2 linked regions of the Homo sapiens genome follow. The gene in region 1 interacts genetically with each later gene. Each region holds a gene or a part of one and is shown on either strand. Other genes may lie near its edges. The genes, in order: NUP160 and PBRM1.

The links.
Region 2: changes in NUP160 (region 1) and PBRM1 together harm fitness more than expected from each alone (negative genetic interaction), as found in Homo sapiens cells (one large-scale study listed by BioGRID).

What each region holds. Positions count from the first base shown.
Region 1 is NC_000011.10:47,782,042-47,785,869, forward strand, and holds part of NUP160 (nuclear pore complex protein Nup160), read right to left. Parts: intron 3,023-3,828; coding exon 2,881-3,022; intron 1,158-2,880; coding exon 1,032-1,157; intron 1-1,031. UniProt on the Homo sapiens protein: Functions as a component of the nuclear pore complex (NPC). Involved in poly(A)+ RNA transport.
Region 2 is NC_000003.12:52,605,795-52,609,622, reverse strand, and holds part of PBRM1 (protein polybromo-1), read left to right. Parts: coding exon 1-310; intron 311-3,828. UniProt on the Homo sapiens protein: Involved in transcriptional activation and repression of select genes by chromatin remodeling (alteration of DNA-nucleosome topology). Required for the stability of the SWI/SNF chromatin remodeling complex SWI/SNF-B (PBAF).

The sequences.
Region 1 (3,828 bases):
AGGCCGAGGTGGGTGGATCACTTGAGGTTAGGAGTTCCGAGACCAGCCTGGCCAACATGGTGAAGCCCCATCTCTACCAAAAATATTAAAAAATTAGCTGGATGTGGTGGCAGGTGCCTGTAATCCCAGCTACTCAGGAGGCTGAGGCAGGAGAATCACTTGAACCCGGGAGGCGGAGGCTGCAGTGAGGGAGTAAGTGGAGGCTGCATCACTGCACTCCAGCTTGGGCAACAGAGCAAAACTCAGTTAAAAAAAAAAAAAAATATATATATATATATATATATATATATATATATATATATATATATATATATATGCGCCTATACCGATGTTCCTCAACTTATGGTGGGTTTGTTTTCCAATAAACCCACTATCAGTTGAAAATATCATAGGTTGAAAATACATATAATACATCTAACCTAATGAACATCACGGCTTAGCCTAGCCTACTTAACCATGCTCAGGACACTTAACGTTAACCTATAAAGTTGGGCAAAATCATCTAACAGAAAGCCTACTTTATAATACACTGTTGAATATCTTGTGTAATTTATTGAATACTGTACTGCAACTGAAAAACTGAACGGTTGTATGAGTATTTTATTTATTTATTATTTATTTATTTATTTATTTTTGAGATGGAGTCTCGCTCTGTTGCCCAGGCTGGAGTGCAGTGGCATGATCTCGGCTCACTGCAACCTCTGCCTCCCAGGTTCAAGCGATTCTCCTGCCTCAGCCTCCTGAGTAGCTGGGATTACAGGTACGTGCCACTGCATCTGGCTAATTTCTGTATTTTTAGTAGAGACGGGGCTTTGCCATGTTGGCCAAACTGGTTTCGAACTCCTGACCTCAGGTGATCTGTCTGCCTCGGCCTCCCAAAGTGCTGGGATTATAGGCATGAGTCACTGTGCCCGGCCATCAGTATTTTAAAGTATGGTTTCTCATAAATGTTCATCACTTTCAAACCACTGTAAAGTTGAAAAATCGTAAGTCAAACCATTGTAAATTGGGGACCATTTGTATATGCCTACCTCAATTCCGAAGTATTGATGTCCTTTTCCCAATACAGCATCCACATATTCTGACACCAAATCCACAGCTTCTTCTAAAAGGTCATAGTTTAAGTATAAACGAAGCAATTCAGCAGCATCAACCTTCTGTGAAAAGTCAGTGATTAAGAATATGTACCTATTTCCCTCCTACTTGAGTACTGACCAAAGAATGTTGAGTGGCTGATTCCCTAACATTTGTATTTCTCAATATAATTAAACCAGTGGCTTGGTTTACTCATCTGTATCTTAGGATAAGAGCTGATAACAAATCTGGGGAGTTAGGAAAAAAAAAAAGTTAAATCCCTAAGAGCCGTTACCTCTAGGCAGTTTGGGAGGCCCTTATCTGTTAAATAGCCTTCTTCCCCTGTTTTATGACCTAAGACATATTTTAACTTCTCTCCACTTCAGTTTCCACAGTTGTAAAGTCAACAAACTTTTCCTGAACACTAAAGTGACAATATATTCACATAATAAGAAATATATGAATGACAAATGCAAAAGAAGTTCAAAGAATCACCAGCTTTAAATCTGAAGTCTCTATTTGGAAGAGCTCTATTAATTAAGCATGCTTTCTATATTCCCATTTGATCACAATCTTACCTTTACCATCTTAGCTGGCTTCCCTACTTTCCTATTTATTTATTTTTTTTGAGACAGAGTCTTGCTCTGTCGCCCAGGCTTGGGGGCAGTGGTGCAACCTCAGATCACTGTAACCTCTGCCTCCAGAGTAGCTGAGATTACAGGCACGCACCATCACATCCAGATAATTTTTGTATTTTTAGTGGAGATGGGGTTTCACCATGTTGGCCAGGCTGGTCTCGAATTCCTGACCTCAGGTGATCTGCCTGCCTTGGCCTCCCAAAGCGCTGGGTTTACAGGCGTGAGTCACCGTGCCCGGCCTCCTTTCTACCTTAAAAAAAAAACAAAAACAAAAACAAAAAAAACAAAACAAAACAAAACAAAAAAAACCAAAAAAAACTTTCCTGATTTTAAGCTTTAGATTTTCTCTTTCCTTATCCTACTAACGGTGGTTCAGATGCAGAAGTTCTCAAACTTTAGCATGCATCAAAATCAAATTAGGAGCTTCTTAAAATGTAGATTTCTGGCTCCTAGCCTGAGATAATCTGATTCTGTAAGTCTAGGATGAGGAATCTGTATTTTGAAGAAGACTGCCATCTGAATAATTCTGATGCAGACAGTCTAAGAACCCGTTTTTGATTTTTAATAGGTGAAACAGTGGGAGTGGAGAAGGAACCAATCGGAAACTGGTTGTGCTCAATTAGTTGTAAACAACACGGCACTCAGACCAGCCATAGTGTTATATTATTTGAAAAGTACTCCACCGACTCCTGTGACTTTTTTGAGGTATGAAGAGTAAATCCTGTGTCATGCATATGCTCATTGTTCTAAATATAAACTCATTGTTCAGTGAATATAATAGGAGTCATTAACCTAATTACTAACCTATGAAACTTCAAATCTAAATACACAGTAGTACTGTGGAAATGAATTTGAATTGTTCTTATGGTTTTAGCTATGATGAAAAGCTTCCCAAAGTACGTAAGTCAATATGTTCCCATAAGTTATCACCCCATCTTTTTCTTTTTCTTTATATATTTTTAAATTTAAATAGAGATGGGGTCTCCCTGTGTTGCCCAAGCTGGTCTCAAACTCCTGGGCTCAAGCCATCCTCCCCTGTTGGCCTACCAATGTGCGGGCATGACAGGTATGAGCCACTGCAATCAGTCCATATTTTTAATCATCTCATGAAGTTATCCAGAATGATAAAGAGTGGGTTCTTACTCTGTACAAGTTATAATCCGTTTACCTTGTAACTGTTTATAAGCCAATTAGGCAGAGGCACTCCATGAGACAAGAGCTTGTTGATTACACAGTGGTGATACAAGTTATTCTGGACTTTGTACCTCTCCAGGTAAGTGGATAATAGTCGCCATGCTTCATCTGTAGCACTTGAAAAAAACAAAAATGACTAATGAGTTTCAGATTCTTAATAGCTATTTAGAGTACCATTCAAAGCATGTATTTACAAGGAAAACTTTTTTTTCAGACAGGGTCTTGCTCTGTCACCCAGGCTAGAGTGGAGTGGTGTGATCTCAGCTCACTGCAGCCTCAGCCCCAGATTCTCCCATTTCAGCTTCCTAAATAGCTGGGAATACAGGCATGCACCACTATGCCCAGCTAATTTTGTTTATGTTTTGTAGAGACAAGGACTTGCTATGTTGTCCACGCTGGTATTAAACTCCAGAGCTAAAGTGATCCTCTGACCTTGTCCTCCCTAAGTGTTGGGATTACAGGCAGGAGTCACCATGCCCAGCCTTACAAGGAAAACTTTAGAAATTAACAACTGAATCAATAATATAGCTAAATGGGAACAAATATTATTTGGGCTAATGTGACTTATGGGGATAGCACTAGAAACTAGATGTCTTGGGTTCGTATATTCCTCTCCCACTAACGTATTTAGTATTTAGTAAACAAACATATTTAGTAAATGAACGTTATTTGTTTGGCTATTAATGCATAATTCATTTAACTCCTTTGTTTCTGCATTTCTAAAACAAGAAACTGGTTCAGAACACTGGTTCTCAAACCTGATCAAGCATTAGAATCATGCAGAAGTTCTAACTTAGAAGACTAGGGTGATTTCTCATAATCTGTATTTTAATAAGTTATTCTGATGTGCTAATTTAGGGGTTGAAAACTAATGTCAGAGAACTTCCAAATTCTAAAGTGCTATCACTCTAAAGTGCTAAGC
Region 2 (3,828 bases), on another chromosome or scaffold:
ACAAAGTCCTGCTTGAAACACGCAGAGACCTGGAGGGAGATGAGGACTCTCATGTCCCAAATGTGACTTTGCTGATTCAAGAGCTTATCCACAATCTTTTTGTGTCAGTCATGAGTCATCAGGATGATGAGGGAAGATGCTACAGCGATTCTTTAGCAGAAATTCCTGCTGTGGATCCCAACTTTCCTAACAAACCACCCCTTACATTTGACATAATTAGGAAGAATGTTGAAAATAATCGCTACCGTCGGCTTGATTTATTTCAAGAGCATATGTTTGAAGTATTGGAACGAGCAAGAAGGATGAATCGGTATGTTTTCAAAGCCATTTTTATTTTGAGGATATGTGCTATTTAATACAAAACAGATGAAAGAATATTGCTTTGATGTACTATTTCCACTTACATACATGATTTGTAGTTGGTAGCATGCTATTCTGAATTCTAATCAGCCAGAACTTCTTAAGAGTGAGTATATTCTGTGGGGGAGAGAAGGCACACCACTAAGTCATCTAGTTTAAGGCCAGTGAGGAGGAAGACAAAATTGAAAATCTCTTGAAAAGCATAAACTTAAAATACAGCCTTTCATAGAATGTGTTTTTTAAAAAGATAAATGTTTCTAATTGGAAATAGTAACAGCGTTTTTCTTTTAAGGTTTGGCTTCAGTGCACGAATGCTTTAAATAAAATAGCTCTAAGGTGTTGTCCTGAGGTTAGACTGATAGAAATTTGATCACCATTTTAAGTACCTCAGAGGGTTTCTTTTTTTTTTTTAATCTCAGGTTTCTCACCTTAAGAGCTTGCTGAAGACATTAAATGTTCTAAAAGAAGCAATCAAATTTAGATTTACTTTAAACTTAAATTTCCTTCTAATTTTTATCTGTGATATATCGTTGCTACATGTCAATAGCAGACTTGACTATTAAATTCAGCAATTACAGTGTATTTTATATGTGCACTTAGAGACAGTTGGAAAAATATAAAAAAAAAAAAGATACAAACCTTACCTTCCTGGAGCTTACAGCCTATCATGTTTAGAACTAGACCTTCAGGCAGTGTAATGCCAGCTGGGGAATCTATGAAATCAGAATTTGCTCTGAACCTTTAAAGAAAAGCAAGTAGTAATGTTTGCTTTCAGTGTCTTTGCAAATAAAAGAAAAAAAACATAGTAACATTTGCTGCTTGTGTTAAGCACCAGCTCTTCGTAAAGCACCATGCTAAGCACTTTATGAAGGCAATCTCTAACCCTTATGATAGCCATTCTAGATAAGTGATAATCTTTTCAGTTTGCATGTGAAAGAATTAGAGGCATAGGCAGAGAAAAGTTACCCATAGTCTTACAACTAGTAAATGATGTGACTTGTCTTGCTCTCCACTGCAGAGGGCTACTCCTGAGCCAGTTACCAGGACAAGTCATGGAGCACGGCCATAGATGATAAGCCTTGAGCTCTGTGCTCTAAAAGCTTGAAGTCTGATGGATGGGCCAGGACTTACGCTTAAGGGAAAAATAATTCCACACATGAGACAACATGCCACAACCTTATATTTAGTAAAGATGGTGATGTAAGGAACTCTGTGGGCCACAGTTCTCCTTAAAAGGCATGGGATGATAGGTAGGGTTCAAATGAATAGGCCAGAGGATATTTCAAATAAGATGAATGTTATGAGCAAAGAAATGGAGTTAGGAAATGAATATGATATGTTTAAGAGACAGGGATAGAGTTGGGGCCAGTTTGGTGAGGCCCATGTGTGACACTTTTAAGAAATGGTCCTTAATAATATGGTTCTTCAGCAATTGAGTAGAAATAAAGAGAAGGATGGAGGGACATCTTGCAGTCAAAAACTCTTGGAGTTACTCATTTATTCAACACATATTTATTGAGAGGCTACTTAATGAGCATATTCTAGATGCATGTAATACACCAGTGGGCAAAACAAACTCTGCTTTCATGTAGCTTAGACTTCTTTCTGTTCTTGTTCTTGGCTTAAGTAGTCCTTAAGTCTAATACCCCTCCCTTCCTCTCCTCCCTGCTTAGCCCCATTACATCTTGGTGTTAGTTCTGTGAGTCTTTCAATGAGTATTTGTCTTCTAGATTATTAGGAACTTCGTTTATGTCTTATAGATGAAATGTTTATTTTAAGAATTAAGATTTGTATCTCTAGGAAATTAGCTCTTTTCATTCTCCCATTGTTGACATGGTTGTTTTTTGCTTTTGAGGCCTGGAAGATAGAGTCCAAGGTGTATTTTTATGAGATAGTGATGCACACAGTTTTACCCTCATGCCCAGAGCTTTGTTGAAAAACAAAAGGGATCCCTGGTAATTTAGTAGTTAGGAAAAATTTTTTAAAGAAAAACATACGGGGAGCCATTCTTAACTTTGTGAACAAAGATAGTATTGTGATTGCTTATAGTACTTATTAAGAATAAGTACTTAATAAGAATTGATGGAGATGCATCAATTTAGTGAATGATAAACTATGCCTTTATCTACTATATTATCAGTAACAAAGCTAGGCATCCCAGAAATATTAGTTCATAAATTCAATGAAGTCTACATACCGTAGATTTCCATGTTGATCTCTAAGAGTCTTCATGCTTCATCACCATTTACCCCTACCCCTACCCACCACTGCTACCCAACATCACCTAGGACTTCACAGGCTAAAATAGAAGGAATCTGAACAGTGAGACGTAACAAGAGAAAAATTCACTCAGGTGACAATAGTTTGTCCATCAACAGTATTTAGTAACAGCACAGTGCTGACTCATGCCAGTTGGCTGCTGGCTTTCCTAAACTGCTGGCAGTATTCCCAGACTAAACACTCTGATCCCCTTGCAGGTAAAAGAGACCTGTGGGAAGATGAACAAGGGAAGCATTAAGAGCCTCCTGTATTCTTAATTATTTCCTTTTGCTGAATGTCTGCCTTATATAAAAAGATTACCAATTGAGGGGAATTTAGAGTTCTTTTTCCAGCTTGCGTTTATGTTCCTGCACATTCAATGAATACCTGACCTCGTAGACTAATAAATTCTTTATAATGCTTTGAATAAACAAAAGCATATACTAGGTGTTTAGTGACTCTTGTACAGAATGTTCATTTCTAAACCATGCGATATGATGGAATTATGATCTGCCCTTTTAGTATACCATGAAAGGTATTTACAAAAATTTTACAAAAATTTTTTACTTTTAATTTACAGAAATTTTCACTTTTTATACTTAAAATTGTACACTATTATAAAATGAACTTTAATTTCAAGTGAACAGAATTCAAATATCTTCATTCAGAAAACAAACATAAAATTATGTTTTAGGGGCCAGGTACAGTGGCTCACACCTGTAATCCCAGCACTTTTGGAGCCCAAGGTGGGAGGATGGCTTGCACTCAGGAGCTTGAGACCAGTCTGGACAATATAGCAAGACCTTCCTTAGCTCTACTTAAAATAAAATTTAAAAAATCAGCCAAGCTTGGTGACATATGCCTATAGTCCCAGCTACTCGAGAGGTTGAGGTGGGAGGATTGCTTGAGCCAGGAGATTGAGACTGTAGTGAGCCATGATCGTGCCACTGTACTCCAGCCTGGGCAGCAGAGTGAGACTGTGTCTCAAGAAGAAAAAAAAAGTGTTTCAGGGGTGTCTTCCCTTGGTAAGTTTTATTTTTATTGCTTTCCTACAAGTATTAGCATTTCTATGACCCCAAAAGATATTTAAAACCTTTCCAAGGCCGGACACAGTGGCTCACACCTGTAATCCCAGCACTTTGGGAGGCCACGGCGGGCGGATCACCTGAGGTCAGGAGTTCGAGACCAGCCTGGCCAACATGGTGAAGC